3 separate regions of the Homo sapiens genome follow, and all the other regions are linked to region 1. The links come from fine-mapping of genetic effects on gene expression. A gene starts in region 1. Each other region holds a variant in brackets. All regions are shown on one strand. Distances are between the middles of the regions.

The links. PIP is the estimated chance that this variant, and not a neighbour inherited with it, causes the effect.
Region 2: its variant is the best candidate, but not a certain one, in a credible set for the expression of CCDC85A in blood mononuclear cells (TOPMed, PIP 0.81).
Region 3: its variant is the best candidate, but not a certain one, in a credible set for the expression of CCDC85A in thyroid (GTEx, PIP 0.65).

Annotation. Positions count from the first base shown.
Region 1 is chr2:56,178,224-56,189,265 of GRCh38, reverse strand. CCDC85A (coiled-coil domain containing 85A) reads right to left here and starts at 5,276. Exons shown (of 6, transcript NM_001080433.2): 1 at 4,366-5,276. The coding sequence starts at 4,641. It overlaps LOC100129434 (a long non-coding RNA gene), which reads left to right and starts at 3,496. Exons shown (of 3, transcript NR_125368.1): 1 at 3,496-3,568. RefSeq lists a silencer at 5,277-5,606.
Region 2 is chr2:56,360,894-56,371,935 of GRCh38, reverse strand. The region is part of intron 3 of CCDC85A (coiled-coil domain containing 85A); the gene reads right to left. Among named protein-coding and RNA genes, the nearest start is that of CCDC85A, 180 kb to the right of the region's middle. The variant G/A (reference allele first, on the strand shown) is at 5,170.
Region 3 is chr2:56,242,886-56,253,927 of GRCh38, reverse strand. All of the region lies in intron 2 of CCDC85A (coiled-coil domain containing 85A), which reads right to left. Among named protein-coding and RNA genes, the nearest start is that of CCDC85A, 64 kb to the right of the region's middle. The variant G/A (reference allele first, on the strand shown) is at 6,232.

The sequences.
Region 1 (11,042 bases):
CCTGTTTATCAATCCCCATCACCTTTCCTTTGCCAGGGAAAATGAATAAGACCCTCAGCCAGGCCTGAAAGGCTGTCCCTTGCCTTTCCACCTTTAGTTGCCAGCTAATTATGAGCTATGATTACGTCTGTGCATTCCAACTAGAAAATATCATCTTCTACCCCATATGAACCTAAGAGGAGAGATTCCTCTGAGAAGTTTCCCCCGGCACAGAAAAGTACCCATGAATGAATGAATGAAGTAACTTTCCCACTCACTGTTTAAGGCCTGTATCACACTCTAGCTAGAACAATCACTAGACATCAATTTTTTCTCCTTTCTAATGTGGACATCTTAGCTTCTGGAGAGCAGGGTCTATTCCAAAAGTCTTTCTTTGAATATGCAACATATCTGGCATGGTGCCTTGCATACAGTGGACACTCAATATGTGTTTATGGACTGATCAACCATATAAAGCTCCAGGCCTCTGGCCAAAACAGGCTACAGCTATAGCTACTGAGAAGAATTTCTTATTGTTTTCAGCAAGCACTAGCTATGTCAGAGCCTACAGTAGTAAGAAAATAAACTATCCCTTGATACTGATGCTTTACAGGAAATCAGAAGCTGTGGATATTTGGAGAAAACAATAACAAAGAAAATTAATCTTTCTAAGCTCCAAAAATTATTCAACATTTAGTTTAATCCTGGCATTTGATAGAAAGCTCAAGTCATGTTCTCTTTCATCTAAACAAATTTTCATAGGAAAATACTTCCCTTTGACTATGCTACAGCTACTTCTGATTTCTCTAGAGCTGGAAAGTAAACAGGACTGGTGCTACCCTCGGCTTCACGGAGCTAATGCCTTTTCCAAAAGGAGTGAAACATACACTTCTCAGCACTCCAGATGGAGTAGATAGGAGTGAGTATTGGCCCACTCCCATTTCTATATCACAGTTCCCTCTTTCTATTATTAGTTTTCTTGAGAATATTATTTACTATTCAGTTCTGAGCTATTTCCTTTGCCTTCTGATGAACAGCTAAGCAGCCAGCTTGATAATAACCTTGTGATCCAGCTTCTTCAAATCTGCCTCACTAAGACTTGGGCTTTCTTTTGCAAAACACTAGGTGTCCTTTTAACATTGCCACCGGCCACCAGAAATTATCCAAGTGTCTAAGTGGACTTTTAAAAGGTTAAGTCCACTTCGTAGCACACCAACCAAAATTTCAATCTTATGCCTGAAGACTATCAAGTACTGTATCTACAGTTAAATAATTGTTTTAATTTGTTATTTTGCTTCACTGCAGAGCAGGGTGGTGGGCGGGTCGGTGGTTGGGTTAGGAACCAAGGAGGGAAATTAATGCAATGAAGAAAACAAATCTACAGAGATTCATCCCGAATCAGCCCCCAACTGGGATACTGGGTCAGAGCAGCCTGAAGTGTTGGTATATGCTCAGCAGTCCAAAGACATGGTTCTCAGGAATCCAGTTCCTTACAACATAACCCTAACTAGAATCTCCCTCATCCACCCCTTCCAGGACCACACATTCTAAGCAAAGAATGTCAACTAGCCAAAAGAAAAGGAAAGCAGGCCGATTTTGAACACTTTATGTCTGTGTGACCTTGAGAAAACTATCTAACTTCACTGGGGTTTCTTCATCTATGGTATATTTCATCCTCATAAAACCTCATGTGGAATTAAAATCCCCATGAGCAGATGAGAAAACCGAGAGACAGAGAGTTTAACAATTGGCCAAAGCTGCCCAAATTATCAGAATCCAAATTCTTTATCTTTCCACTTCTCAGGGCCCCTGCACTGCCCTGCCTCCCAAATATCTAAACACAAACAAGTCAATCAGTGCTAGGACCCGGCCACAGGCCCCTGAAAAGTAAAGAACTGATGCTGCCATCTCCTGTGTCCACAGCTACAATAACACCTGGTAGCCTTACAAATATTTAGATGCAATTTCAAAGTCAGCTCATAGAAAGAGGCATAAAAAAGAAAATGTATTATGGTCTTAATTCCCCTACATTTATAGTTCTCAACTGAGAATGCCAAGCCCTCAGACGCTCCCCCACGCCCTTAACAAAAAAAAATACTTCTTTTCTTCCAGTTAAGCCAAAATAAATATATGTACCCATCATTTATTCAATCAACCACATTTATGGATTACTATGGTGTCCAAGGAAGCTCTGAGCCAAAATAAAAAAGAGAAGGGAGAAGGCTGGCCTCTCCAAAGAGTAAAACCACAGCACACCCAGGGTGGGCCAGAAGCCTGGGAGTCCGCTCCTTGCAGCAGCCCAGGGATGACATGAGAAGAGTAGAAGCTGCATCAGAAAGCAACCTGCCCCCATCATTTCTGAACTTGATAAGGAAGTAGACTGGCAAGTCTTTTAATGCCAGGTCATGAATCTAGATCACAAGGAGACTTTCTTACTTGGGTGTACGGGCCTTTAGCTGACCTAATAGCTACTTCTCTACATGAAGCTACTGGAATGAAGCCCAGGCACTCTACCAACCCACTCTACCATTCCCCTCCCCTACCCACACACAGACATCACACACAGTCAATCCACATAACCTAAAGGAACTTTCAAGTGTTTCTGAGCTATTATTTTGATGCTCCATACTATTAAAACATTTAATAATAACTCTTCCAACTCTTCTAAATCACACTATTGTTCAGACCATGGAAGAAACTCAAATTAGAGGATGACAAACTAATGCCCCCTTGTCCAGCTCTGCCTAAGAAACCAAAATCTTGGGGACACACAGCCATAGATTTGTAAGTCCTTTCCTGATGACAGTAACTACCATTTTATAGTCAAGTATTAAACCTTCCCCTACATAATCATAACTTATTGCCATAACACCCTCAGAAAGTTATTATCATTGCATTGTATTGGTGAATAAAAGGAGGATCTGAGAAAGTAATTACCCAAGCTCACCCTCCTGGCAAATGAGGTTTCTAGAATTCAAACCCACCTCTGAGATCATCTTCCTACTACACTAGCCTGCCTCTATTCCCCAAAGAGACTGGCACTTAATAAACACTCTGTTAGTAATGAATTCAACCACAGGAGAGAGTAAGCCTTGGCATTTTTCTGACTGGAGGAATCTTCCTACCTGCACCCACTCTAGGGACTATATGACAATGACTTTCGGCCTCGGGAGACGGCCATCTCCACCTGAACTGGGCCCAGCACATAGGTGAGCCTTGAGCATTCCACTCTTCCCACTCTTTCTTGCCCCAGAATCCCAGAGCTGGAGCACTGAGGCAATTCCGGAACAGCATCTACTGTCTGATATGTGGGGATAGGAGTGGAAAGGGGAAAAGAACAGCTTGTGCCTTCGGGAATTTGCTCCCTGAAGTCCCTGCAGTGATTTCGTTTGTGTCTGGCTTCCTACAAACAAAGCAGAACAATGAGAGGAAGGAATACCAGGAGGCACCAGCGCTAGCTGGAAGGAGAGGAAGTTTGTGGTGCTCGCCAGCAGGGCGGTTCCCGGCCACTAGTGTACTGCAGCTGGGCAGGCACACTCCTCGCAGACCCGGCGCTCTCCAAGGAGAAAAGAAAGTTAGTGGGCTTGGGGTACGTTTCCCTTCTTTTCCTAGAAGAGGGTGGCAGGGGGGCTGGCTCAGAAAGAAACCATCACTGACCAACACTTGGGGTACTCTGTCAAAATGCTGCTCCTTCCATACTGAGTCTCTTTGCTCCTCCTCTTTCCCCCAGTCAACCTGGGGTTAAGTGGGAAGGGGAGTAAGGCAACTCCAGGGGATGCCTTCCAAACTCCGGGAGAGGGAAAGCACAGGAATTGGGAGAAGACGTGAAGGCAGAGCTTGAACTCCTATGTACCCGGTGACACAAGACTGCTCTGAGGGTGGCGCCCGCTGCTTCTCCCGGGCGCCCCGCCAGCCGCTCTCCCTGGCAGTGGCGCCCTTTCCTCGCCCTCTGCCCGCCCAAGAGCTGCTGGCCCAGAGCAGCCGCATTCCCGACCCTCCAAGGCGAAGATCCCCTGGATTCACCCCCTCACTGGCCTTTCCGCCTAACTGACTGAAACCCGGCTCCCCAGGCACAGATTTTCCAGCCTCCCTAAGAAATGAAAGGTTCGCGTGCCCTTCACCTCCCTCCCTGCTTTCCAGCGTCCTCAGCGCCTCCCCGAACAGCCAGACAGTGGAGCGCCCCGTGTTGGGGAGAGGAGGGGAGCAGACGCCTCCGAAGTTTGGAAAAGTTACACAGGGGCTGGGGACTGGGGGTAGGGGGTGCCGACCGGGAGAAGGGGAGGGTCACCTGTTGAGGGAGGGAGGGAAAGTTTGCCTGGCCCCGCCTCCTCCTCGGGGCACCCCGCTCCCAGCCGCGCCGCGCCTCCCCACCTGGCCCGCGCTCACCTTGAGGCCGCGGATCTCGCCGAGGTGCAGCTGCAGGCGGCGGTTCACCTCGCGGATGAGGTTGCTGTGGTCCAGCATCGCGCTCACCTTCTCCGCCTCGGCGCGCCGCAGGCTGCGGATCAGCTCCTCCTTGCTCCACTGCAGCAGCTCCTCGTCCGACACTTTGGACAGGTCCTCCACCGGCGCGGGCGGGGCCGCGGACGAGCCGGCCGGGGCTGGGGAACAACTTTCCGCCGCCGCCGCAGCCGCCGCCGCGCCTCCGGCCGCCTTCGACATGGTATCCGCGGGGTGGCAGGTGCAAGTGGGTGGAAGAGGCGAGGCGACTCCCGAAGGCGCGGGCGCGGCGAGGCCGCCTCCGCCCACACCCCTGTGCGCTCCGGCGAGTCAGCGGCACCGCCCAGGGGCCGCTGGGTTGGGGCGGCGGGGGTCGCGCTGGGTGGCCATCCTACCTCGCCATCCCCGCGCGCGCGCCCGCGCTCCCCCAGGGCCCGGCAGCCAGCCGCTTGCTGCTGCCGAGGCCCGTCCCAACTCCGCGCAAGTCCATGGTGAGGGGCACTGGGGAGCCCGGGGCTGCCGCGGGAAATCCTCGGGGACAGCGGGGGAGCTGCACCGCCGTTCCCCTGCCCTCTCCTCCGCCCTAAGCCGAGACTGTCGCCCCCCGCACTCTCTGCCCTGCACACAGGCGTGCACGCACACGCACTTTCCTCCCCCTTGCCCAGCTGCAGCCCCCGGCTTCTCCCCTCTCCTAGCTTGGAGGGCGCGCCGGGCACCGCGGCGCCTCCCCGGCTGCTCTAGCGACGCCGCCGCGGCTGCCCGAAGGCTGCTGCGCTCCTCCTGCCGCCTTCGCTGCGCCCGCGGCCGCTCCTAGGCTGCTCCGGAAAGCCTTCGATTTGCAGAGCGGAGTCGAGAAGGGGTGGAGGGTGGGGGACCGGCTGGAGGAGGAGCCTGGAGCTGGGGCCACCCGTAACCCGCAGCAGCTCCCGCATGGGCTGGACGCAGCTGCCACTCGACCGCTGCCCGGGCCCTCGAGGTGCGCTCCCGGCTGTCCTGCCCGGGAGGGCTGGGGGCGCGGCTCTTTCTGCGCCCGGGCGGGTGGGGCTGGAATGGGGAGAAGGTGAGGAGCTGTGGCCGCCCGGTCTTTGGGAGGCTCGCGCGCGCCACCGTGTGGCGGAAGAAGCTCCCTCCTCTGCCCTCTGCACACCGGCCTTGTCACCAGGCAGGGGAAACAGCTGCTGACCCAAATGCGAGGTGCTTCGTATTTGGAGGGATCGGGGATCAGGAAAGATGGGGTAGCAGGACCTGAGGGATAACCAGTTATTTGCACTTTGGAGAATGGGAGGAGAGGCAAATGGCAAAAACGGGGGTTGGGGAAAGGGGCAGCTTAAGAAAATCCAAATGGTCTGAAAAGGGCGAAAAGAGGCGTCAGGGCACTGCTCTTATGGGGCTACCCATCCCCACCCCCCACTCTCGCCCCACCCCTAGGCCTTTGTGTTTTCTAAAAATCCACTACTCTATGAAGAAGCTTCGGGAGAAGGTACTGGATCTTTTAAATTTTTATTTGAAAAATATCAAAGCCTTTAGGCGAAAATAAAATACCTTCATCTCCTGCTTCCTGAAACCTGGATTTTAAGGTCAGCACAGTCACCTCCCCTCGGAGCAAAGCAAGCCCCCTCAGGCAAGCTGAAATGCCAGCCAAGGAGATTTCCATTTTCTTCTATGCCGCAGGCTGCCAGGCGTTTACTGGGTCGGCTTTTTTATGATGGTTATTTCTGGAAGGAGGAAGTCTGAGTCCCTGGCTTCTATCTTTGGGCTATCCTCTTGTAAAGTTGGGTGGAATCGTCTCTGGGCTGAAAACATGCTTTTGCCTAAAGAGGTGGATGCCCTTGACCACCGCATGTTATTTCCAGTGGGGTACAGGGCCGGAAAATGGCAAGGATCTACCCCCACCGGGTTTCAGTTAACCCGGGTGCAGAGGGAATAATCTCTATCTGGTAGGATGATAATCAAAATCAGTCCCTTCACCCGCCGGTCAGTGCGTGTCCCCTATTGGGGACACTGAGACCTGGCTCCCGGGAGAGGCAAGGAAATGTGGTACTGCTTACGGTGACCAAATGGCCTTAACATTCCCCTCAGCTTAACTAAACTTTAGACAGGTTTCTTCCTAACTGTAGGCCCCAGACCTTCCTTTTCTCAGAGCATTTACTTTAGCCAACTTCCATTGGTGAATGTTTCCTCTGACCCTTTGACATGTAAATCTCTCCGCCTCTTGCTGGGTTTTACAGCCTGGGGATCTTTCTCAGGGATCTGTGAGGCATCCCTTTGAAATGTAATCATCAAGGAAAAAAGGGTCCCTATCTCCTAGTGTTTGTGGAGAGGAGGAGCCTAACTTTAATAAGTTCCAATTAGGAAACACAAATGGCCTCATTACACTGACCAACTTCCCATCCTAATCTCCTCCACTAGTCTTCTACTAGTTCCCCTCTCCCTCCCTCTCTCTCTTCCCTATTGCAATAGCCTTGAATAATTCCCCCTTGTCTGTTTAACTATATCGGATGCAATTTTTCTTTGACACCTCCAAGCCGCTCTCACGCCCACAGAAGGCTCTGCTCAACACAGTTCCTAAGACCAGTTTTGTCACAGAAAGGGAAAGTGAAGGTCAGAAAAAGATAAGTCCTATCTCTGTTACTTGTTAGTTCTTGTCCTTGAACAAACCATCCGACCTTACTGGCCCTCGGGCAGCTAATGATATGGTATACAAGAAGCGCTTGATCGAGCCACCCTACAGAAATGCAACCTTACTATTACTGATATTACATATTACATTGGGCAGCCTCTTGTCTAGAAATAGGAACCAGGACTTCTGTTTATTCCTCCATCACGGGTTCTTCAAGAGTCGTATTCTAAAATGAAACAGCCAGCCCCCTTCTCTGCTAACTCCCTCTGATCAGTTAACACCAAATAGATATGAGAAATCAGAGAGATGGCTGAGAGGAAAAATTAGACTTGTGTTGGGAAGACAAGGAAGAAGGAAAGCCAAAAAAAAAAAAAAAGTCTCCACAAATTATATACACTAGCAGTGGATTACAGTTGAGCTAGATCACCTTAAGGTTTTCATGTTTCTAATTTTGGTCATTGATTCAGAATAATAATTATCTGCATGAATGAATAATGTTGCTTCATGTTGCTAAGGTCATGTATGGTGTCAGGAGCTTCATTTGACTGCTAAAAACAGAAACTCAAAAAACAGTCACTTTAAAAAAGTCATTTATTTTTTCTCACCTACCTGGTATTCTAAAGAGAGGCAGCTGAGGGCTGGTATGGTATCTTCATGAGGTCGTCAAAATCTTAGGCTCCTTCTCTCAGCTCAGTCCCCTTTGGGATGATTGCCTCGTGTCCATAACATGGTTGGTGGAACTCTAGCCATCCAGCTACGTGTAAGGCAGGAAGAAGGTAATAACAACTGCAAAGGGGCACATGCCCCTTTAAAAACTTTTCCTGGTGGCCGGGGGCGGTGGCTCATAACTGTAATCCCAGCACTTTGGGCGTCCGATGCAGGTGGATCATTTGAGGTCAGGAATTCAAGACCAGCCTGGCCAATATGGTGAAACCCCATCTTTACTAAAAATACAAAAATTAGCTGGGCATGGTGGTGCGTGCCTATAATCCCAGCTATCGGGAGGCTGAGGCAGGAGAATCGCTTGAGCCTGGGACGCGGAGGTTGTGGTGAGCCAGGATCGTGCCACTGCACTCCACTCTGGTCGAAAGAGTGAGACCCTGTCTCAAAAAAAAAAAAAAAAATCCTGGTAATTGACCCAGTGAATTTTGTTTATGTTCTAATAGGCAGAGCTTACCATATAATCACCTCCCAGCTGCAAGGGAAGCTAGGACAGTGTTTTAAGTTGGGTATATTAAATGGAGATTTCTGAAAACCAGCCATAAATGACCCTACGTCTTTAGTCCTGATGGTTTTATATCATATAATTTTCTTCAGTCAACTCTATTTCCCCCCAGCTCACTGTTACTCAGCCTAGGTTCTCACTAAGTCTCACCTGGCCCTTCTCACTGGTCCCTCTGACTACTGCATCACCTCTCTCGAATCTGCTTTCCACACAACTTCCCAAGTGAATCATCTCAAAAAGTCAAGTCTAGCTACTTTACCCCTGAGACAGATTGAATTATTGCTGATAATTTTTCACAACCTCCCTACAAAATTAATTAACATCGGCCAGGTGTGGTGGCTCACGCCTGTAATCCCAGCTCTTTGGGAGGCCAAGGCGGGTGGATCACGAGATCAGGAGATCTAGACCACCCTGGATAACACGGTGAAACCCCGTCTCTACTAAAAATACAAAATATTAGCCGGGCGTGGTGTCGGGTACCTGTAGTCCCAGCTACTCGGGAGGCTGAGGTGGGAGAATGGCGTGAACCCAGGAGGCGGAGCTTGCAGTGAGCCAAGATAGCACCACTGCACTCCAGCCTGACGGCATAGCGAGACTCTGTCTCAAAAAAAAAAAAAAAAAAAAATTAACATCACCTTCCACCATGTGATGTTGTAGCACCTCCCCTACAGGGGGCAGTTTTTCTCCCCTCCCTACTGGTATTGAAAATCATATTGCAAGCATATGACTTGCTGTACTAACGCATGTGTGTGCACCTGACAGTGTACCCCTTCTCTGAAGAGGTCTCAAAAGGCGTCTGTCTGCCCACTCACCCGTCTGTTCTTTCCACGCTTCACCAGGAGAAGAGCTAACCTTGGGTAGCTGCTGTTCCTTCAGTCTGAGCCACACACTCAGCCACCCCAGCCAACCTGAAGATCTGCAGCATGAAGCAGAGCTATGCTCACAGACTCACAGATCTGTGTGTGAGAAAACAAGACTGTTGTTTAAGCTACCGACTTTTGGGGAGATTTATTGTGCAGCATTACTAATGCAATAGTTAGCAGATACAACTCCCCTGCCTAAATCCCTTTGGGGGCATCTCAGCACCTTTCTGTGGAGTGAAGCTACATTTCTTAGCAGAGCATGTAAGATGGACACAGTCTGATGCTTGCTTACTTTTTCAGCTCCAACTCCTACCATACTTTGCCTGCCTCATATTTCATACTTTTTCAGTTCTAAACTGCCTTGTAGCTCCCTGTCAGCATTCAATATACCTCCGTACCACACTGATGCTCTTTTCTCATGCATGAAATGCCTTCCTTGCCTTATCCTTCTGAATAACTTCCAACCAGATCCTTCAAAAGGCATCATCTTATCCAGAGTGCTGGCATCAGCCCACATTTCCCTGGCAGAGGCAAAGGTGAGTGTCCCTCTCCACTCCCATAACCTCCAGTGCATACCCCTAGTGCAGTACCTAAAATAGAATGCTGAATTACAGGAAAATATAAGCAGAGGCTCAAACTAATCCAGTCCAATCCCAACAAAAGGGTTTAGCTCCGGCCAGGATTTAATATTATCTCTTTTCTGCTTTCTCCAAACCATACAAATTTTTGTCATGCTCTACAAAACTCCTTGGTGCCATTAGGGATGTTACTGAGGACATTGCTCACGACATCCCATAATACCTTATAAAAACTGCACCTAATCCCTGTGGTTCTTTGGGGGAACTACATAATTTTCATCCTATGGACACTGAATTTTGCAATTGGTTATGTATTCCTCTTTGTGCTGGCTTCTAGGAAGTTAGATCTAAATTTGTGGCCCACCTTCAATAATTTAGAGAAAACTTAAGGAATGTAATCTGTTGACTAACCTGACTTCCATCATTTTCTCACTTTCAAATTTCTCCCTCACAGTTTCTTCTTTTTAACCTTATGTGTATGTATCTTTGCAAGTTACTGCTGGCATTTTTAGTAAGGCAGAAAAGAGAGGAAGGGAGGGAGGGAGGGGGAGAAGGGTCTCATCTTCAATTATAGACCCTATAATGTTTTCTGTCTCTCATTTACTTTGGTATCTGCTTTGGCTTGAACATGTGTCCCTCCGATATTCATATGTTGAAACTTAAACCTTAAGGTAATGGCATTAAGAGGGGGCCTTGGGAAGGTGATTAGGCTGTGAGGGCTCTGCCCTCATGGATGGGATTAGTGCCCTTATAAAAGGACTTGAGAGAGCAAGTTTGTCCCTTTTTGCCCACCCTTCTCTTCTACCGGATGGGGAAACAGCATTTGTCCCTTTTTGCCCCTTTTGCCTTTCCACCATGTGAGGACACAGTAAGAGGGGCCGTCTGTGAAGCAGAGAGTGAGCCTTCACCAGACACTGAATCTACTGGACTCTTGATCTTGGACTTCCCAGCCCCCAGAAATATGAGACATACATTTCTAATATTTATAAAGTACCTAGTCTAAGGTATTTTCTTATAGCAGAATAAATGGACTAAGACAATGTCTTTTTCCTCTTTTAGCTCCTAAGCTCCCGAAGACAAGGTCTATTTCCTAACACAGAGTTAGTATTCAATAAATACAGGAGGGAAGGAGGAAAGAAAGAAGGGGGAAGGGAGGAGAGAACAAGTTTTCCAAGGGCCTTCATTCTGATTTTTTAAAATATCTTTCTTGTTTGGGTTGGGTCACCACCCAAACACATACACAAGATCTCTTCCTTTTGAAAATATCATTACTGTTTAGTATATTTGGAAGTCAGAAGAGTGATACGTAGTTCGGAAATTTTTTTAATATTTCAAAA
Region 2 (11,042 bases), 180 kb before region 1:
GCACTATGCCCTTTTGTTAAGAAGTGAAATTTGGGTATACATATTCAATAATACTGAGAAAATTAAAACTGCATCAAATTTTTAACAAAATTTCTGCATGTTGAAGAGAATGTAATGAGCTAAAAGGTCATCACTGCATTAAAATAAATATTTTACATAGAAAAATCTACATAATCATCAAACTTTGTATTCATAAGTTAACTAAATTTTTATGTATTTATTAGAACTAGAGGCATCACATAATTGAAAAGAAAAAAGTCCTTAATTTTAGCTTTTTCCATCACCAAACTGTATAATCCTATTAAAATGATCAGAAACAAAATGAACTTATTAGAACATGATTTCCTCTCCTGCCAACTTTCACAGAGACCTATAACTAAGAATATAATGTCCCAAGGAATAAGAAAATAATTTTAATAATTTAATAATTTTAATTATGGAAAATACGCAAAATGGTCCCAAAATTCTAGTGTCTAAATGTTGAGGTTGACTTTAGAAGACTGAAAATAAGAACATAAAATTTTAATTCTCATCAATTCATTTTTTTTGAAGTTAGCGGCCTATATCTGAATAGTACTGGTCCAATTTTCACTCTTCTCTAACTTTTGGAGGTTGAAAAAAGAAAATGCACCATGGTCTTAAGTGAAGTAAGAAAGAGAAGAAATAATGACCAGTAGTTGGTACTCACAAAACTCTTTTCTGAACCTATTAAATTGGCACCAGTGACCTATAAAAATAAGTCACACATACTCTACTTCTCACGTATAACAGAGGCAATTATATATTTGCACTTGGGTCATAATGATAATTTCATCATAGCAACATTAATTTGAACATTGCTCTTTTGATAATTAGTCCATGTGTAGTGTCTAATTTGTTTCCATCATCAAAAGAATTATCTCCAAAAATTTATAACATGATTCACAGCTTAATACTCACCTCCCACCCCAATCTGCATAATTCTATTTCTGAGATGATCATTAATGAGTAATGCAAATTTTATAATTATTTTTACAAATAAGGAGATCTAGTATCTGAATTTGATTATTTCCATAACATGCACCTCTCAGATCTTATCCTTTTTGGATTTAACAACTGAGTAAAACATATAGGCATTCTACTTTCATTCTTTCTTAATGTGTAGCAAGGCTAAATCCCAATTCCTCTCCATTGTAACAAAGCTTATCATCATACCCATGAAATCTAAGGTAGGATCTATGCCAACTTAGAAGCCAGCTGGCATGAGCGCCATTTAGCTACTATGTAGAGAACTCACAATAATTTCCAACTTTCAGAAAGTAGATACTACATAAAACAATAGCTATACTTTAAGTATTATAAAATGTTCCTTTAAAATATATTAAATATGTATTTTATAGTATTATTAATCTCATAAGGGGGAACAATAAACAGGGGCCAGATCTTTGTGGAAGAATAAACTGATGATATAACCATTTTAAAGGAAAAGGCACTCTTTTAGAACCAGGATTAATTAATTTTCTCCCCATGTCAGCATATATATTTTTTTAATCTAGGTATATAGAAAAGTGTGTTCTGGGCCAGCCATCATCATTAACTTTCAAATAAACTACATCAAAATGGTATTTATACACTAATGAAGGCTTAGTGTTTCGCAGGGCCTACAATCACCAATTACAGTGTTTGCTGAAGACAGTTTCATAAAACGTAAGAAGCCTTCAGTAATTCAGTCGTTAAACTTGTTTCTGGCAACTTGGGGGCTCAAAATGGTGGAACTCAGATTCTGGTCACTAATTGGGAGAACAATTCCAAACAGTCTTAAGATCGTCACTTCCTATTTTCTGAGGAATTCTGTTTCACTTAGTTTTGTTTTCTGTAGTTTTCTAAAATTCCAAGTTTGTGAAAAAGAATCCCTGAATGACCCTAACACTCCCATTGTGTGAGAAGTAAATTATAGATTACTTACTCTGTGGTAAGTACTCACAGAAATCATAAAAGAATATGAAGAAGTATGAATCACTGAGTCTCTTTAAGTTTCGCTATAACTGTACTAGTCAATAGTTTTTATTCCTTGAAAACTCTGGAAACTTCTATAGAGGTAATAGTGTAGGGTTTTTCAGAAAACGAAGTATTTCAAAAATTTGTGAGGAGGAAAGAAGAGTGAAAATCAAGTACTGAAAAGAAGAAAAAGGGGGAAATGGGAAATCCGAACTGTACTTCTCACTCACCAGGCATCTCAGCGAACTTCAGACACACATAAAGGTTCCTCTTGAATGATGAACAGAAAAAGTCCCCAAGAACTATTTGTTGGAAACCTCAGTAATAAAGTATGAAGTGACCTATGTTTTAAGCTAAGAAGAATAAGTCAGCCTGACTTGAAGACTTTTACCTTGCTGACTTTGAAAGGCATAAAGATGGGCAAATGAATTCACATATGGACATTTGCATGGGTTTAGCATGAGTCATAGCCTTTAGTCCTCAGGACTTTCGGGGTCAGATTCTGGTTAGTTCTTCAAACTTCAACAGGGTATAAAATTCTCTGTACTTAAACATGAAATCAACATGAAGTTTTGAACAACTACATCTGCAACATTTTCTCTTCAAACTACGACCATTCTAATAATAAATAGTTCTCATCTATTTATTTAAAGACGTACAACATTCTCTAAGACATTATAGTTTATCTTTCCCTTATTGCTCACAATGAGCTATATATGTAAATGAAGGGAATAAAAACCAATTTTGCAAAAAAATAGACCATTTAACTTTTTTACACTGTCGTGTTTCTTTTCTCAAATTTGCGTGAATTAAGTGTTACTGTTCCTCATAGAAATAATGAAAAACACTAAGAAATGTCCAATATTATATGTTATCTAAAATACATGAATCACAAAACGATGATCACTCAGAATTTGATGTGTGATCTCTGCAGTAGGGAAAATTACCTAAAAAATAAAGCTCCTAGAAAAATCCTTTATAATGTTTTAATTAGTAATGAAGTCAAGGAAATTTTTTAATTTAATGAAAATTCTTCCTAAAAAAAGTTTTGTTTGCACGCCAGAAAAATGGAAAACAAATATACTGAGTTTCTTATTGAATATATACATATACATATATGTACATATGTATGTGTATATATAAAAATATATATGTACTATATAAATATTTCCAATTGACTAAAACTCACATTCAATAGAGTAATACTGTAGTGTTACATAAAATAGTTTCTCACTTTGATATAAATCAGATGTAATGCACTTATAACAAATTTGAGACCCCAGCCCTCTCATTCACTATAGAAGGCCAACTACGGAAGCCTGAAGATTGATCAGCTAAAGTGGTTTCCTGTTACTTAAAGATGCTTAATTTTTTATAATTCCTGAACTTGGTTAAACTATCATATAATATTTAATACCTCATCAGAGTGTATGCCTAGTTTAAGGGGGAGGATAAATTCAGTTTTCCCTTATTACAGGGCAAGGCAGATACTTTGCTTAATCTCATCAGGGAAATAATATTTTGTTCAGTTTGGCCAATCTTCATTCTGACATATTGTAAAACTGTCCTAGCAAATAAATAAAAGCTCTGATTAGAAGAGATTTTAAAGGTCACCTTGGCAAACCCTCTCCAAGAGATTCTTGTGCATAGGCTTAGAAATGCTAAGACCCTCTTGCCTTACTCTAATGTTAATATTTAGTCGGTTATATCCAAAGAAAAGTGCATTTTTCATTTAAATTAACTAAAGAATCTATTCAATGCTGATGTAAAATAATAAGTAATTTCCTGGATGTATAGTCATTCATTTATTCACTTAACAAACATTAATTTAGTAACTATCAGACGTGATATTGCATGCAATGCCATATAGATACCTATTCCAACGAATTTTTGTTGAAAGAGAAACACAGTGAGTTCAAATCACAGACTCCAGGGTCGCAGTGCCGGAGTTTAAATTCTTGATCTGACACTTATGAGCTGCATGACTTTGGACAAGCTATATGGCCTTTCTGTGCCTTAGTTTCCTCATCTATACAGTGTAAATAATAATGGTAAAATGGTACGGTCACTCTATGGGCTTGGAAACTTACATGGAAAGAGCTTTTAAAACAGTGTCTGGCCCACATAAGTGCTCTATAAGCATTTGCTGTCCTTATCATGAATGTTTTTGCTTTGCTTGTCAACATATTTTATAACTTGTCAATTTATGTCCGAATGTTTATTATTGAGAGTGTCAGTTCTCATTGGGGGCGGGGGTGATTTGGCCCCCAAGAGAAAACATTTGGCAAAAATGCCTGCAGACATTTTTACTTGTCAAAACTATGCAGTTTCTACTGGCATTTAGTGGGTAGAGGCCAAGGATGTTGCCAAATATCTTAAAATGCACTGGACAGACCCCTCACAAAGAAAGGATTATCTAGCCCAAAATGTCGCTATAGCTGAAGTTGAGAAACCCTGATTTAGAGAAAGAGAACTATGTTGGGAAACTACAAAGCAAAATTTCTGGTGACAGCTCTATAGCAGATTTTGCATATGAGGACATGTTGCCCACAGGATTTGGAGCTTGAAAGGATTTAGAAGGAAACTCCTTAAGCTTCAGCCCTCAAATGGTCTAAGTATAAAGGCAGCCACATTTCCACCCCCAAATAAGAAATTACTCCAATAAAAGAAACAGAATTGAAAATACCCATATCATCCTACTGTAACAACACTAGCAGAAAGAGAATACGCTGTGGGCAGGCACAGGGCAGTGGTCCAAAGGAAAGAGTTCTTGAGATAGAGACATATAGTATGCTACAGTACCTAGAAAATCGTGACACCAGTCCCACATAGAGAATACAATTGGCAGAAGGGGCTCTGTGGAAATTATGGAAGATCATAAAGCTTACTTAACAATTTGCTGGGCAAAGATTCTGCACTTAACTTGAAGCAGTCACATTAGGAAAGAATAAAATTGCCAGCAAATAGAAGTGGGGGCCCTGACACATGAAACACATCTCAGTGCTAATGAAAGCATTATAAGATAATGGCAAAAGATTAAATAGATAAAAAGATAAAAGAGAGATTAAATCATAAAAGATGAAAGAAATAAGAAGGAGAAATCTGGACCAGGAGGCGACTACTCTCTGCGTCACATGTGGTGAAGGATTGTAGCCTATGTACAGACTCCTCGGCAGGCAGAGGACTTCTTGA[G/A]GGCCTGTTTTTGACATAACAGCTCTCAATCACTAAGCTCCTACCACGTTAGCACTACCCTAAGTGCTGTCCATTAAAAGATTAATAAAACTGGCTAATGTGAGTTCCTAAAATGCTGGGTGAATATCCAAAATATAGAAATAACTCAAACATCTCAATAGCAAGGAAACAACCCAATTGAAAAATGAGCAAAGGACCTGAATAGACATTTCTTAAAAAGAAGACATACAAATAGCAAAGGATTTATGCAAAAATGCTGAACAGTTCTAATCAAGAGAAAAATACAAATTAAAACCACAATGAGATCACCTCATGCCTTTTAAAATGACTATTATCAAAAAGACAAAAGATGTGTTGGCAAGAATATGGAGAGATGGGAACCCTTGCACACTGCTGGTGGGAATGCAAATAAGTATAGCTATTATGGAAAACAGTATGAAGTTCCTTCAAAAAATTACAAGTAGGACTACATATGATTCAGCAATCCCACTACTGGGTATACATTAAAATTAAACAAAATCAGTATGTCAAAGAGATATCTGCACTCCCATGTTAACTGCAGCATTAGTCATAATAGCCAAGATATGGAAACAACCTAAGTGTCCATGAATGGATGAATAAAGAAAATGTGCTATCTATATATACAACAGAATACTATTCAGCCTTAAAAACGAAGGAAATCCTGTCACTTGTCACAACGTGGATGAACCTGGAGGACATTACACTAAATGAAATAAGTCAGGCACAGAAAGATAAATACTGCATGATCGTACTCATATATGAAATCTTAAAAAAAAAGTTTATTTCTACTTAGAGAGGAGAAAGGTGGTTACCAGGAGTTGAGGGGATTGGGAAGGAGAAGGAAATGTCTGTCAAAGGATACAAAATTTCAGTTAGACAGGAGGAATAATTTCAAGTGATCTACTGTACAGCATGGTGACTATAGTCAATAATTTATTGCATTCTTGAAAAATACTAAGAAAGTGGATGTAAAGTGTTCTCACCCAAAAATGATAACTATGCGAACTGATGTATATGTTAATTAGCTGTATTAAGTCATTCCACGATGTCTAATACTTTAAAACATCATGTTGTACACAGTAAAGATGTAATTTTATCTATAAATGTAAAAAAAGTTTTTTTAAAGATACTAACTGTGGGCCTGGTAATGTTTTCAGTAATTTATACCCCAGAGTGATTTTTCCTTCTTTGGGTCCCAGAAGTCTCCTTCTAGTCTATGCACTCATTCTTTGGCTCCTGGGTTACAGAGAGATCCAGATGATCCTAGGGAGGGTCAGATTGGTTGGAATAGCTCAGCAGCCTTCGAAGGAACTGGATTAGAAGCATGTTAATATGAATAACTGATACAGATGAACTGCTACACACCAGATTAACATCAGCTCTGTGCTCATTTGACCTTCTCCACTCCAGGCACATAACTGTGGCTGCAACCATTACATAAAATGTGTATCTATCCTAATAAACAAATGAAAGTAATATTAATTCACACACCCCTCATTTATTATGCCAAATAATGGCTGAGATTGATGTCTGTGGAGTCACAGTGGACGTAGTAAGCAGCTTCAATTCAGAGAACCAAAAATCTTAGGCTGCTGACATGTTCAGGAAAATAAAATTAGTTCTATCTTCCTGTAGTAGAAGGATGTGAGCACAGGATATGAGGCCCAGAGTAGCAAAAGCTGAGTCCAACATGACATGCAGGAGTTGCATGGGAAATCTCCCATGCCGTAAGAAGGATTTGAAATTTATTCTATGTGGAGCCACAGATGTAACAGAAACTGATTGGTGGTGGACAGATTGATCTGGTAATAGTGTGGAGAATGATTTGGGTGAGGCCAGACTACCTGGGATGAAGTTCCAATTAGGAGATCAACAAAGAATTTGAAGGGAAAAAAAGTATTACTTATTGCCTACACTGGAAAATAGCAGAAGAAATTAAAAGGACAATATTGATGGATTAGAGGGCAAGACCCTATGAACTTTAATGTCTATTTGAATGTAGGCAGTGAGGTTGAAGGAGTTATCCAGGATGACTATCAACTTTCTGGTTAGGTACTCGCTAAATGGTCATGCTATTAACCAGCATAGAAAATACCGGGGGAAGTAATAGATCTAACTCTTTCATCAGATTTTTAAAATCAAGATCAAAGAAGTGATTAATAATGCAAAGCCCTCAAGCATTCTTTGTCACGAATACCCTCCAAAAGGTTTTCTCCTGACATGTGAAATAAGAGAGTTTGCAAAACATTTAAATTTAAAATGATATTAACTTCATGCAGTGCTCACTGTATCACTGATGAAAATATCTCTGCAAACAATAAAATGTTATTGGAAGGAAAAGAAAGTAATTTTGAAATACCTGTTCCTCCAGGTGAAACTTACAGATACAGAAATATAGTTCCCAGAAAAAATAAAACGAAATAAAAGTAATAATTACAGAAGGTTAGCAGGATGCCTTTTTACAAAAATTACAAAGGGCAAACCCCAGGAAGAAAAGAATTAATATCTTTTGAAAGGGCTAAGACAGAAAACACCCAGTGTCTCTGTAGCCAGAGTGACGGCAGATAAAGAATAACATTGAAGGCCTGGTTGAAAAAAAGAAAAAGAGGCTGTTAAACAATACCTAGGAAACATAGGCAACTACTTCTAGGCAATGAGTCTATATGCTTAATACTTGACTTTTATTAACTATAGAACTCCCAGTGAGAAACACTGAAATTCCTACAGAAAAAGACTGATACTTCTAAATTGCTTTTCAATCAGGCTGGTATTAAATAGTAAAAGGTTATGGCATTGTTGCTGAGAACATATCTGAATACTTTCAGGTTTTGGGCTTATTTTTTAAAAGGGAGAAAAGGAAAGCACAAGTAGGACACGGAGCGTAAGGGCATGGAGCTGAATTGCCAGTATGGATGCAATGGCAAAGAAGTAATGCTAATTAACATTGCATCTGACTTGCAGACCAGAGCCGATTAATAATTGTGTTAAACACCTCAGCATGCTATCAGGGCCCAGGGGAACACATGCACAGAACTAGAGCCCCAGGAACTAAACAGTGACTTAAAATAAATATTTGCTGAATTGACTAAGAAATATTCCACTGTGAGGTGGTGTTTGCTGCCCTAGCTTTGGCAAAAAGAAGGGTCTTAGGTTCTTTGATGAATCTTCTAGTATATGAAGCTCCCATGCAAAATGGGAAAGTCAAGACAAGAGAGAGGTCAATAGAGAAGCAAGAAGAGTCAGCTTCTTGTATGTATCCTTACAGCTACCTATCTAGGATACATACAATAATACAAACAAACACAGCTACCAGTTAGGCTGTAGGTCTACCCATGCCACCTGCTGAAAGATCTATCATGGAGCGTTAGCAATGATCTTATGCTTAAATGTTTACAGAAACGAGAGTAGCCAAAATGAATCCAGAATCCAGGCAGTGTAGCCTTTGCATAATTGGTAGTAGTAATATCTCTGGCAGGGAAAAATGAAATCCACCATCAGCGAGACCATCATCAAAGCACAAAAGGAAGCATCATGGAAGCATGAGCTCTTATTGTCACAAACAGCTCTTACTGGAAAGGAAGAAAACAAAGAGATTTTAAAAATATGTTTATCTGTGCCCTACCTTCTTATAAAAAAAATACGATGGAAAACAAGATTTTTTTATTCAAACTATATATACACTCATTTAACTGAATCATATTCAAAAGGATAAGTCTAGGGCACAGAGAGTTAAAACAAAATATAAAACATCTTTGCAAAGTCAGTCCATTGAAGTAAGTCCCAAAATCATCCATACCTCTGGGAGACTAAAAAAGCTAAATGGGGCCGGGAGCAATGGCTCACACCTGTAATCCCAGCACTTTGGGAGGTCAAGGGGACAGATCACCTGAGGTCAGGAGTTTGAGACCAGCCTGGCCAACATGGCAAAACCCAGTCTCCACTAAAAAAAAATACAAAAAATTAGCCGGGTGTGGTGGCACATGCCTGTAATCCCAGCTACTCAGGAGGCTGAGGAAGGAGAATCACTTGAACCCAGGTTGCAGAGGTTGCAATGAGCTGAGATCACACCACTGCACTCCAGCCTGGGTGACAGAGCGAGACTTCACTGGGCAACAGAGCGAGACTTCATCTTAAAAAGAAAAAAAGAAAAAAAAAAGCTAATTGGGTCTCTCTTTGCAGTCTACACTTGGCTCCTCTCTCCTTCTCCATCTTTAAATCTTGGGGTATCCAGGATACAGTCCACAAAGCTCTTCTTTTTTTTCCCTCAGCATTCATTGATGAGAAGTTCCCATTCAGTCCCATAGTTAAAATATATATATATATTTCATTCTTCCCAATTTTTTGTCTCCAGCTCTGATATCTCACCTGAGTTTGACATGTACACATCCAACACTATGTGACATCTCCTTGTTGATGTCCAACACCTCAAATTGACTATGTCCAAAATAGAACTTGATTCCCCTGCACCTCCTAACCTGTTCCTCACAGTCTTGCCTATCTCAGTAAACAGCACCACCAATCATATGATTGCTGAGATCAAAATCCAAGAAGTCATCCTCAATTCTTCCCAGGGTTGACACTCTGTACCATCCCTGGGCTGCCATTCACTGCATAGTCTCTGTGAGTAGTTCCTTCTGGGGCTGTCAGTGCCCAACCTATGAAGCCGTATGCAGTCCCTTTCCTTTACAGTCCACATTCCATCTATCATTAAGCACCCTTAGCTCTACTTGAAAACACACTGTGAGTCTAACCCCTCCTCACCATCTCCACCCTACCACTTAGTTCAAGCCACTCTCAGCTCTCTTAGACTACCAAGCTAGCTCCCTAATGAGTGTACCAATGTCCCCTCTCCCTGTCTCTACCTTCTTCAGTCTCGTGTTTACCCAACATGGAGACTGATCCTTCAAAAATGTGAATTAATGATATCACATCCCTGCCCAAATCCTCCAATAGCATTCCATCGACTCATATCCAAATCCACATGCTTGAGCTTGGTCAACAGAGCACATAGGGTCTTCCTGTTTCTCCAACTTCATCTCATTTTATTCTCCATTTTACCCACTCTGTTCCAGCCACATTGGCATTGTTCCTCTTTCTGAAATATCCTTGCTGTTCCCACTTCCAGGAATACTCTTTTCCATACTTCCTTTATTCAAGTCTCCTCAGATGAGAGGTCTTTTCTAAATATTATCGTACTCTAGTCATTCTCTTATTCTATGCCCTGCTTTTATTTTCTTCATAGTGATTACCTCTTTTGGGTAATGTATTACATATTTATGGTTTTAAAAATAATAATCTAGCTACTAAAATGTAAGCTGCATGAGACAGAGGCCTTAACTCTCTTATTTAAGACTGTATTCTCAAACAGTATCTGTACATAAGAGATGCTCAAAAAAGATTCAAGGGGTAAAAGATTAAATGAATGGCCAATGCTAGCCATCAGCCTTCCATGACCTACAGAAATTCTATTCCCTATTTTTTTTTTTCTTTTTGAGACGGAGTCTTGCTCTGTCAACCAGACTGGAGTGCAGTGGCGCGATCTCCGCTCACTGCAAGCTCCGCCTCCTGGGTTCGCGCCATTCTCCTGCCTCAGCCTCCCGAGTAGCTGGGACTACAGGCACCCGCCACCACGCCCGGCTAAGGTTTTTGCATTTTTAGTAGAGATGGGGTTTCAACATGTTAGCCAGGATGGTCTCGATCTCCTGACCTTGTGATCTGCCCGCCTTGGCTTCCCAAAGTGCTGGGATTACAGGCGTGAGCCACCACGCCTGGCCTCTACTCCCTATTTTTAAGGGATGTTTTGCTTGTGCTAAGAAAAGCAGTGGAAGCCCACTAATTATCTATCACTGAAT
Region 3 (11,042 bases), 65 kb before region 1:
ACTCAGATGGGCACAAAACCAATCACACCTGTCCTTTGTCCCAAATCTACATTGTGAGGAAACATTTTATTTAAGCTAGCACACAATCTCAGCAACTGGCATCCCCATTCTTGCATGTTTTCAAGCAGAAACTTAGAAATCATCCCTGACACTTCTTCCTGTTGGTCTCTATGGCTAATCCATCAATAAGTCCTATCAATCTTTGCTCCGAAACATCTCTTGAATCCACTCTCTTCTATGCATTGCTACCATCAGCCTTGACTAGGCCACCTCCTCTCCAGCTTAGAATATTGCAATAACTTTTTTAACTAGTCTTCTCTTATTCACCCTGACCCCTATTCAATCCATTCTCCTCTCTGAGTGATCTCTTTCAAATTCAAATTTAATTCTCCCCTCCCTAACTCAGCTGCTTTTAGGATGAGATGAAACCTGTACTATGGCTCAGGAGACCCTACCACATACTGTACTAGGAGCCCTTCTCTTTCCAACCCGCTCTGGTCTTCTTGTTCTTTACATGCTTCCTGCTCCCTCCCATGAGATCTCTTGCCTGGAAACTCTTCCCTTGATCTTCACCCTAGCTCCTGTCCTACTCATTCTTCAGCTCTCAGCTCAGGCAATACTTTCCTCAAGAATCTTTTCTAGTCTCTTGCTCTAGACAAAAATCTCTAAAGCAGCTTATGGTGTTAGAAGTTTCAATCACAGTTTATCCTTGATGGGCGTAGGGACTTGAAGAAAACAAGAGGGGGCTTCTGGGTGCTGGTAAAATTCTGTTTCTTAATGTGAGTGAAAGCTACACAGGAGTGTTGAGTTTGTGCAAGTTTGCTGAGCTATACACCTATAATAAGAACAGTCTTCTTCTGTCTGTATATTTTACTTTTTTTGTTATTTATTTATTTATTTATTTATTTTGAGATGGAGTCTTGCTTTGTCACCCAGACTGGAGTGCAGTGGCGCGATCTTGGCTTACTGCAACCTCCGCCTCCCCAGTTCAAGTGATTCTCCTGCCTCAGCCTCCCGAGTAGTATAAAAGGCTTTTAAAAATACCGAGGGATGAATTCATGTCCTTTGCAGGGACATGGATGAAGCTGGAAACCATCATTCTCAGCAAACTAACACAAGAACAGAAAACCAAACACCACATGTTCTCACTCATAGGTGGGAGTTGAGCAACGAGAACACATGGACACAGGGAGGGGAACATCACACACTGGGGCCTGTCGGTTGGGCGGGGGGGCCCGAGGAGGGATAACATTAGGAGAAATACCTAATGTAGATGACGGGTTGATGGGTGCAGCAAACCACCATGGCACGTGTATACCTATGTAACAAACCTGCACATTCTGCACACGTATCCCAGAACTTAAAGTATAATAAACCTAAAAAAAAAATACCCAGAGCAGCCTGATCATAGTGCAATTCTCCTTTTACGTACTATGCATTTTCACAGCTGCAATTTTACGTTATTTGATTAACATCTGACACACCCCCATGAGAGCCTAAGCTCCACAGAAGCAGGCTGAGTTTCCCTGTCATTGACCCTACAATACCTGGCCTAGTTAAGTACTTAAAAAATAGTTGATGAGGTCAGGCGCAGTGGCTCACGCCTATAATCCCAGCACTTTGAGAGGCCGAGGCAGGTGGATCACAAGGTCAGGTATTCGATACCAGCCTGGCCAACACAGGGAAACCCTGTCTCTACTAAAAATACAAAAAATTAGCTGGGCATGGTGGCAGGCACCTGTAATTCCAGCTACTCGGGAGGCTGAGGCAGGAGAATCGCTTGAACCTGGGAGGCAGAGGATGCAGTGAGCCAAGATTGAGCCATTGCACTCCAACCCCGGGGACAGTGTGAGTCCATTTCAAAAAAAAAAAAAAATAGTTGATGATACAGCCAGGGAAACTATGAGGGGATGAAGCCCACAGAGACATAAAAGACTAGGTCAAACTGAATAGCACAGACTATCCGACAAACCTGCACGTTGTGCACATGTACCCTAAAACTTAAAGTATAATAATAATAAAATAAAATAAACACAAAGGAAAAAAAAGAAATCAGCCACCTTCTCTCCTGCTACGGGCATTCCACTTGTTCAGGGTTCTTTTCACTTCCAGTGCCCATCCTGGAGTAGTGCAGCAGAGCTTCCTGGTCCTTATCCTAAAAAGACCAAGCCCCATGATGCTCAAGAAGGCAAAAAAAAAATCAGTAAAAGGACCAAAGAAGGGAGAGTAGACAAGGAGTCCCAATAATAAGAACAGGAACAGCAAGAAGAGGCAGAGCAGGTAAAGAAGAAGAAAGGAGCTGCCACTGAGACAGCAATGAAGGAAGGAGCAAACAGACCCTGCCACCACCAACACAGACCAAGGGAGGTTAAGCCAAAGAGGAGGTTGCAACATGATACAAACAATATTTATTAATAGAGAAGGAAAAAGAAACAGCAGAACCCACAGAAAATAAGCATTTGTAGAAGAAAGTGTCAAGACTAAACAGCAACCAAACTGGCAAGGCCACTATTCCCAGAGGAAAACTCACATGAAACTCGTCAACTTTTTCCCAAACAGCAACCCTTATTTTCCACTCATATGGGCCCAACATTTTCAGATAATACATCCATGTGTTCAACAAATATTCACTAAGCACCTAATATATACCAGGCACTGGGCAAACTTGGGCTCACAAAGGATTTGCTGCCTACAGGAGAAAACAGAGCCCTCAACACAGGGCTGCCTTAAGAAAGGTCTAAAGCGACCCATACCCTTTGTTCACCCAAAGTTCACCAACACATTGTTGCAGTACTATTTATAGATCCCAGGAGATACCTCTGGGGGAGGAAAGAACTGATGAAACATACAGCACAGACAACACTAGGTAATAAAGTGTCAGACCAGAAACGTATAAAATGAATGGAAAACACAGACACACAAAAGACAGAACTAAACTAAAATGGAAGGAAAAAGAGTAAATAGAAAGGGACTCGAATGAAAGACAAAATAGCAAAGAAGAGAGGTCAGAGAGGGGTACTGGGAATATGACAGAAAGAAAAAAAAGATGACATTTACAGTAAGAGACAACTGTATCCAAAGTCTTTCAAATGTACTTCTAATATTCCCCAATTTGCTCTAGTTCAATAGATCAACTCTAGCAATGACAAATGATAACTCAATGAACAGAGACTTGATTGTTTATTAACCAAATACCTCAATTTGGGGGAGTGGTTTGATATTTTTTCAAGAAGCACACATTAGCAATTTGAATCACATTGCAACCCTTCCTATAATATGTCATTTCTGGAAACTCAGGAGAGAAATTGCCAACCACTGCTTCTCAGGAAACCCAAAATGTCCTGCCCTTGTCTCCTCCTATTCTCCCGACTCTCTCTCTCACTGAGCTTCTACCCTAGGTAAGCCGACTACCATACAGATGTCACTAGGCATTTCCTAACTTCTTTCCCCTGACCTGGTTTGTATCATCTTATCCTTGATAGGCTAGTACAATAACTTTTTCAACAATGTTCAAGCAGACAGTTTACTTTGTTTTCTAACTTCAAACTAAGAATATTTTCCAAAGGTTGCAGAGACACAGGCTTGGGTACAAAGGGTAAAACTCCACTACAGTCTCTGTGCCAATTACAGCATAGGGTCCAGGGCACATTTTTATTGCTCATGCTTGGAAAAGCACTCCAACTTAAAATCTTACTATATTTTAAGTGGGCTTACCAAAAATTAAACAGGCACCAAACTCTTAAATGAATTAACATTTGTTTTCAAATGCTTCCTGCTGTACCCAAATGCTCCTCCCATGCCCTTCACTCTCACAATAACCTCACAGTCCTTGCTTACACGTTTTAGAGGAGCAAAACCTATAAGTACACAGATATCATCTACAAAGCCCCTGCCTGCCCTTCATGGCTGCTGGCACAACTGAAGACATTTACCATTTCAAGATCCTCAAAAGCAGAGGCAATGCAAAGAATGAGGCAATGAAGCCATTTAAATATAGCTATGGCAGGGCCTGGCAATGTTACAGCAAATTAAATTTTAATGGGACACAGAAAATGCTGAACCTTCAGAAAGTTTATCAGAGGAAGGGGCATCTGAAGGACACAAATGCCCCAGGGCCCAGGTGTAGACACAGAGGAATAACTACATGCCAGGACCACTCAAGGTCAAGAATTTGCAAAATATACAGATAACCAGATGTGGGGAGACCAGCCCCTCTGCAAATTTGCTGGCTTTTACTTAGAAGGCAAAGAAAATTGATAAAAGCTACTTCGTGAAGGCTCAGAGAAAACTGATATGTAACAAGGTCAAGTTTCTGTGTCAATGAAAGATGCTGCATACGCAAAGGCAGCTGATCTAAATAAAGCTGCTGACCAATGACCCAGTGACCTCAAAGCTTCCACAGTGTGTCTTCTGAGGCTGTTCTTCAGGGACAGATTCACATATAGGCCCTGTATGGGATTGTTTTCATGTGCTTCTTCAGATTCACTCTACCCTCCTGCTCTGTACTCCAGGAGGCTGCATCAAACCAGCTTCCCTGCCTTCTAGCATCTCACTGGGCATGGCCAATAAGTGTCCCTGGCAAGGGATGGGAGCAAAGAAAGACAGAAAGTAAAGGGAGTTTCCTCCTCTTTCCCAAATGCAGTCTGTGGTCTGGCATTGGTACATCCCTCTGCCTAAGGCAGAGCTCATGTCTGGCGGCCCTGCTCCTATAGTGACAGCCACTTCCTCCCCTTGTTCCAGCAGCTCTGATCTATATGAGTTACAGCAATGGATTGTCCAGACCGCTAGCTTCCCACTGGGCTCAGTCACTGGCAAGCATCTGCAGGATATTAGACAGAAGAAGAGAGAAGGTCCTGCTATTTATTCCTGGACTTCCTCCCTCCATTGTCATCTTGGGCTGCATTCATTCCTTGACTGAAGGTCACAGTCCCGCCCTAACCTTTTCTAGAACCCCATCTGTTCTTGCCAATACAGGCACTTCCCTGATATGCTCTTTAGGACAACTATGGTAGCTAAGGGTATGGATTTTGGCATCATACTATCTGACATGAATTCTCATTTTTTCTAATCAATATCCATATGACCTTGGCCAGTGACCTTCCCTCTTCAGGCTTCCTCACCATGAGGATTCTAATGAAACCCAGTTCAGACCAGTGTCCTGACACTGAAATCATGTAGGTGGCACTCAGCTCAGCCCTGCCACGTAAAGTGCTTGATAAAAATGAACTTACTATTGTCTCCACTGTTATTTACAATTACCATGCCCTAACTCCTCACTCTGACTTCCACTATTGCCTGAAATTGCTACGTTTGTGTTGAGCCTCTGCCTTGTCGGAAGCCACTTGTTAAAACAGAAGCACCCCAGGCAGGACTGAGTCAATTGCCACAGTGGGAGCCCTAGGATGCCAGGGACTTTGAGTGGAAACTGAGGCCTCCGGAGATAGGCCAGCCACAAGGCAGAGAAGACAGCACAGGAAGGGAGGTGGGTAGACACCAAGGGCCTGTCTGCTTCCCTGTCTCTGTGAGGGCAGGCCATACTGGTACAAGGAGCATCTGAGTACACCGCTCCACTTGGCCCCTGGTTACGATGCCAGGGCTTCCCCATAACAGAAGTAAGCAAGGCTGGAGACCCAACCAAGGGAGACCGTTCCAGAGCCAGCCAACCCCAGAATACATCTTCCATCCTAAATCTATCATCCTTCCTGATGGCTGGCAGAATATTCTTTCTCTAGCGCCAATGTTTCTATGGAATATTCAGAGAGCAGAAGCATTTATCACAATGACATATCCTAACTTCCAGAAATTGAGACATCTAGAAATAGCCATCCGGGTAATATCACTTATATCCCCTGTCACTTTCTGAAATGATCCAGTGAGAGAGAAAGATAAAGTTCTGTGACTCTGAGCAGAGCAGGTAAAGCATGGGGCCCCTGACAAGTCTCCCTGCTCCCCATTGTACACTGGAGCATTTTGATAGCACTCTATCTTTTCTCTCTGAATGGCTTGGGCCTCTCTAAATAGCTTATAGTACCAGCAAAAGATTGGCCCCAATTCCAATATCCTCAAATTTTCCACTTGTTTATTTGAATCAATGTATTCTTTTCTTTGTCCTGTGATCTAAAGGAGAGAATTAAACAAGGCAGTATTTTATAAAATTGTATTAGAAGGAAAAATATATCATCTATCTTCTGTGTCCCTCATATCCCTTATGATATCTTTTTACAGGTTTAT[G/A]TTTTTTCATGGCCTAGTCTTTTCCATTTCACATTTTTATCAAAGCACAAAGGAGCCACTTTTATCAGTTGCCTTCAAAATAAGACATAGTTTGGAAACACTCAAATGAAACACTTCAACTTTAAACAAGGTGGCTTCAAGGACCCCATTTTGCTCTGTGAGCTCCTATTGCATTAAAAGCCTAAATGGTCTCAATGAGCTAGAGGAAAACACTCCAGTTACTTTAAGATTGCAGAACAACCTCCTATGAAAAGTGCCAGTTGCATGATGTATACAGGGGAAAAATTGCAGAAGGAAAATATATCTTTCAAGTGTGTTTCTTCTTTCCCCCAGGAATAAAAAAAAAGACCCATGTCTGCAATCTAGATAAGTATTAAAATAAACTTTAAATTTCTCTTCATTCACTATCACTGGATATGAGAGGGTTACTATTACTCTTCTCAAGCAACATATTTTCATTGCAACCCAATATCAAGAGAGCCCTAGTGACCACTGTGTTCTGGTTACCTTCAAATTACACTACTAACGTAGGGCAATCACTTTCTTTACACATATCCAGGACAGTCTTGGTTCCTGGGCAGAACCTGCACTATAGCATAACCACATTTTGAGGGGACATGATTTAGAGTGCAAAACATCTGAATCTTCATAATAAAAATATCATTGAGTGAAAATCTTATGAATTTTCATAGAAAAATGTTGAAAATTATAATAATCACAACTCCTTCAAGAACTTCACACATACTTGGATTGTAAGGATGATTGGAATGAACTGTCCTTTCTCAAAATAAATATATTTTCAAACCATGAAGCCAGAAGTAAAAAGTCCTGAAACCATCAACCTCTGAAACAGGGTAGAAACCTATCCAACAAGTGAAATTTTAGCTCTTTATTTTATTTTAAAGAAAAGATCAATAAAAGAAATCTGTGCATTGGAAAATAAGATGTTCAAACCTAAGCTAATTATAAACATACAGGTCAACTAAATATAATTGAGTCAGAAATAAAACCTCTCATTTATGGTCATATGATTTTCAAAAACAGTGTCAAGGCAATTCAATGGAGAAAGGACAGTCTTTTCAACAAATGGTGCCAGAACAACTGGATATCCACAAAAAAAGAATCAAGTTGGAACTCTACCTCATACCATATACAAAAGTTAACTCAAAATGGACCAAAGATCTTAAAAGTAACAGGTAAAACTATAAAACTTTTAGAAGAAAACATAGGCATAAATCTTCATGACTTTTGATTATGTGGGGTTTTTTTTTTAGATATGACACCAAAAGCATAAGCAAATAAAAACTGGATTTCACCAAAAAATGTTTTTATGCTTCAAAGGACATTATCAGGAATGTAATAAGACAATCCACAGAATGATAAAATGTACTTGCAAGTCATATTTGATAAGCAACTTGTATCTAGATTATATTAAGAACTTCTATAACTCAAACATTAGAGACAAATAACTTGGGCCGGGCGTGGTGGCTCACTCCTATAATCCCAGCACTTTGGGAGGCTGAGGCAGGTGGATCACCTGAGGTCAGGAGTTCAAGACCTGCCTGACCAACATGGTGAAACCCTGTCTCCACTAAATACAAAAAATTAGCCAGGGATGGTGGCACATGCCTGTAATCCCAGCTACTTGGGAGGCTGAGGCAGGAGAATCACTTGAACCCAGGAGGTGGAGGTTGCAGCGAGCCAAATAACTTGTCTTAGTACGTTTTCAGCTGCTATAACAGAATACCTGAGACTCGGTAATTTATACAGAATAAAAATTTATTTCTCCCAGTTCTGGAAACTGGGAAGTTCAAGATCAAGGAGATGGCATTTGGTCTGGTGAAGGCCTTCTTGATACATCCACACATGGCAGAAGGGCAAGCTGCCCAAATGCTATATGAAGCCTCTTTTATAAGGGCCTTAATAGCCTCATGGCTATTAAGAGGTCTCACCTCTTAGAGACCCCACCTCCTAATACCATCACATTGGCAACACTTGAATTTTGGGAAGGGCATATTCAAACCACAGCACAACCCAATTTAAAAATGGGCAGGAAGAGAAAGGCAGAGTAAATGGCCAAATAGAAGCCTCCACCAGTGGTCCCCCTTGCAGAACACCAAATGTGACAACTATCTATGCAAAAAAGCAACTTCATAAGAACCAAAAATCAGGGAAGCAATCACAGTAGCTGGTTTTAACTTAATATCACTGAAAGAGGCACTGAAGAAGATAGGAAAGATAGTCTTGAATTGCTGAGGCCACCCCCTCCTCCATCCCCTGGCAGAGGCCATGTGGCATGAGGAGGGAATCTGTGGGCTTGTGGGAGGTAGAGCAGGCAACTGCAGGATTTTGGAATTCAGTGCTGCCAACACTGGGCAGAATTCAGCTGGTGCTCATAGAGGGAGCATTTAGACCAGCCCTGGAAAGAAGGGAATCACCCATCCCAGCTGGTGGAACTTGAGTTTCAGCAAGCCTCACCACTGCAGGCTAAAGTACTGTGGGATTCTAAATAAACTTGAAAGGCTGTCTAAACCACAAGGACTGCAACTCCTGGGCATGTCCTAGTGCTGTGCTGGGCTCACAGCCAGTGGACTTGTGGGGCACATGACCTAGTGAGACACCAGTCAGGGTGGCTAAGGGAGTGCTTCTGTCACCCCTCTACAAGCACAGGCAGCACAGCTTGCAGCTCCAAAAGAGACCGCTTCCTTCTGCTTGAGGAGAGGAGAAGGAAGAGTAAACAGGACTTTGTTCTGAAAGTTGGATACCAGCTCAGCCACAGTAGAACAGGGAATCCGGCAGAGTTGTGAGGCCCCCATTCCAGGCCCTAGCTTTCAGATAACATTTCTAGAAACACCCTTGGCCAGAAGGGAACCCACTGCTTCAAAGGAAAGACTCAATCCTGGCAGGATTCATCACTTGCTGACTAAAGAAGCCCTTGAGCCCTGAATAATTAGCAGCAGTAACCAAGTAATACACACTGTGGGCCTTGGGTGAGACTCAGATGTGCTGGCTTCCAATGTGACCCAGCATATTCACAGCATATTCAGACTGCAGAGAGCCTCCTTCTGCTTGAGAAAGGAAAGGGAAAAACAGAGGAGACTGTGTCTTACAGCCTAGGTACCAGCTTATCCACAGTAGGGGAGAGGATCCTGCAGTCTCTTAGGGTCCCTGGTTCCAGGCTTTGGCTTTTGGATGGCACTTCTGTACCTACGCTGGGTCAGAAGGGAGCCTAAGTCCCTGAAAGGAGAGTCCCAGGCCTAGAAGCATTCAGCACAAGTTGACTGAAAGGCACTTGTACCTTAAGTGAATTGTCAGTGGTACCCTGGCAGTACTTCCCACGGGCCTGCAGTGGTGGTAGGCATAGGCAGTGATTCCTCTGCTGGCGCAAGGGGAGGGAAGAGTGGCAGAAACTTTGTCTTGTGGTTTCAGGGCCAGTTTAGCTGCAGAATAGAGCACCAGGTAGATTTCTATGGTTTCCAACTCCAGGCCCTGACTCCCAGACATCTCTGAACCTGCCTAGAGCCCAAGGGAATTTTCTGCCCTAAAGGGAAAGACACAAGAGTAGCTGGATTTACCACCTGCTGATTGTAGAGCCCTAGTGTCTTGAGTGAACATAGGCAGTAGACAGGTAGTGGTTATAGTGGGCCTTAGGCAAGACCCAGTACTGTGCTGGCTTTAGTAAAGAAAGAAAGAGAGAGAGACTCTATTTGTTGGAGACAAAGTAAGGCAGGAGAACAAAGATCTTGCCTGGTAATCCAGAGAATTATTCTAGAACTTATCCAAGACCACCAAGGCAATACCTCTATGAGTCTGCAAGAACTATGGTATCACTGGGCTTGGGGTGTCCCCTAATGCAGACACAGCTGCAGTGACCAAAATCAAAATACCAAGGTCCCTTCAAATACCTGGAAAGCCTTCCTAAGAAGGATAGGTACAAACAAGTCCAGACTGTGAAGACTACAGTAAATATCTTCTCTTCAATGCCCAGATGTCGAACATCTACAAACATCAAGATCCTGCAGGAAAACATGACCTCACTGAACAAACTAAATAAGGAACCAGGGGCCAAGCCTGGAGAGATAAAGATATGTGACCTTTCAGACACAGAATTCAAAATAGCTGTTTTCAGAAAACTCAAAAAAATTCAAGATAACACAGAAAGGTAATTCAAAATTCTATCAGATAAATTTAACAAAGAAATTGAAATAAATAAAAAGAATCAAGCAGAAATTCTGGAATTGAAAAATGCAACTGACATACTGAAGAACGCATCAGAGTGTCTTAATAGCAGAATTGATCAAGGAGTGGAAAGAACTAGCAAGCTGGAAGACAGGCTATTTGAAAACACACGGAAGAGAAAAAAGAAAAAAAGAAAAAAAATGAAGCACTCCTACAACATCTGGAAAATAGCTTCAAAAGGGCAAACCTAAGAGTTATTGGCTTTAAAGAGGAGGTACAGAAAGAAACAGGGGTAGAAAGTTTATTCAAAGGGTTAATAACAGAGAACTTCTCAAACATAGACAAAGATATCAATATTCAAGTACAAGAAGGTTATAGAATACCAAGCAGATTTAACCCAAAGAAGATTACTTCAAGGCATTTAATAACTAAATACCCAAAGATCACATATGAAGAAAAGATCCTAAAAACATCAAGAGAAAAAAAAACAACACAGAAAGGACAGTCTTTTCAATAAATTGTGCTGGGAAACCTGGATATCCACTTGCAGAAGAATAAAACTAGACTTCAATCTTTCACCATTTTCAAAAATCAAATCAAAATAAAGACTTAAGTCTAATACCTCAAACTAT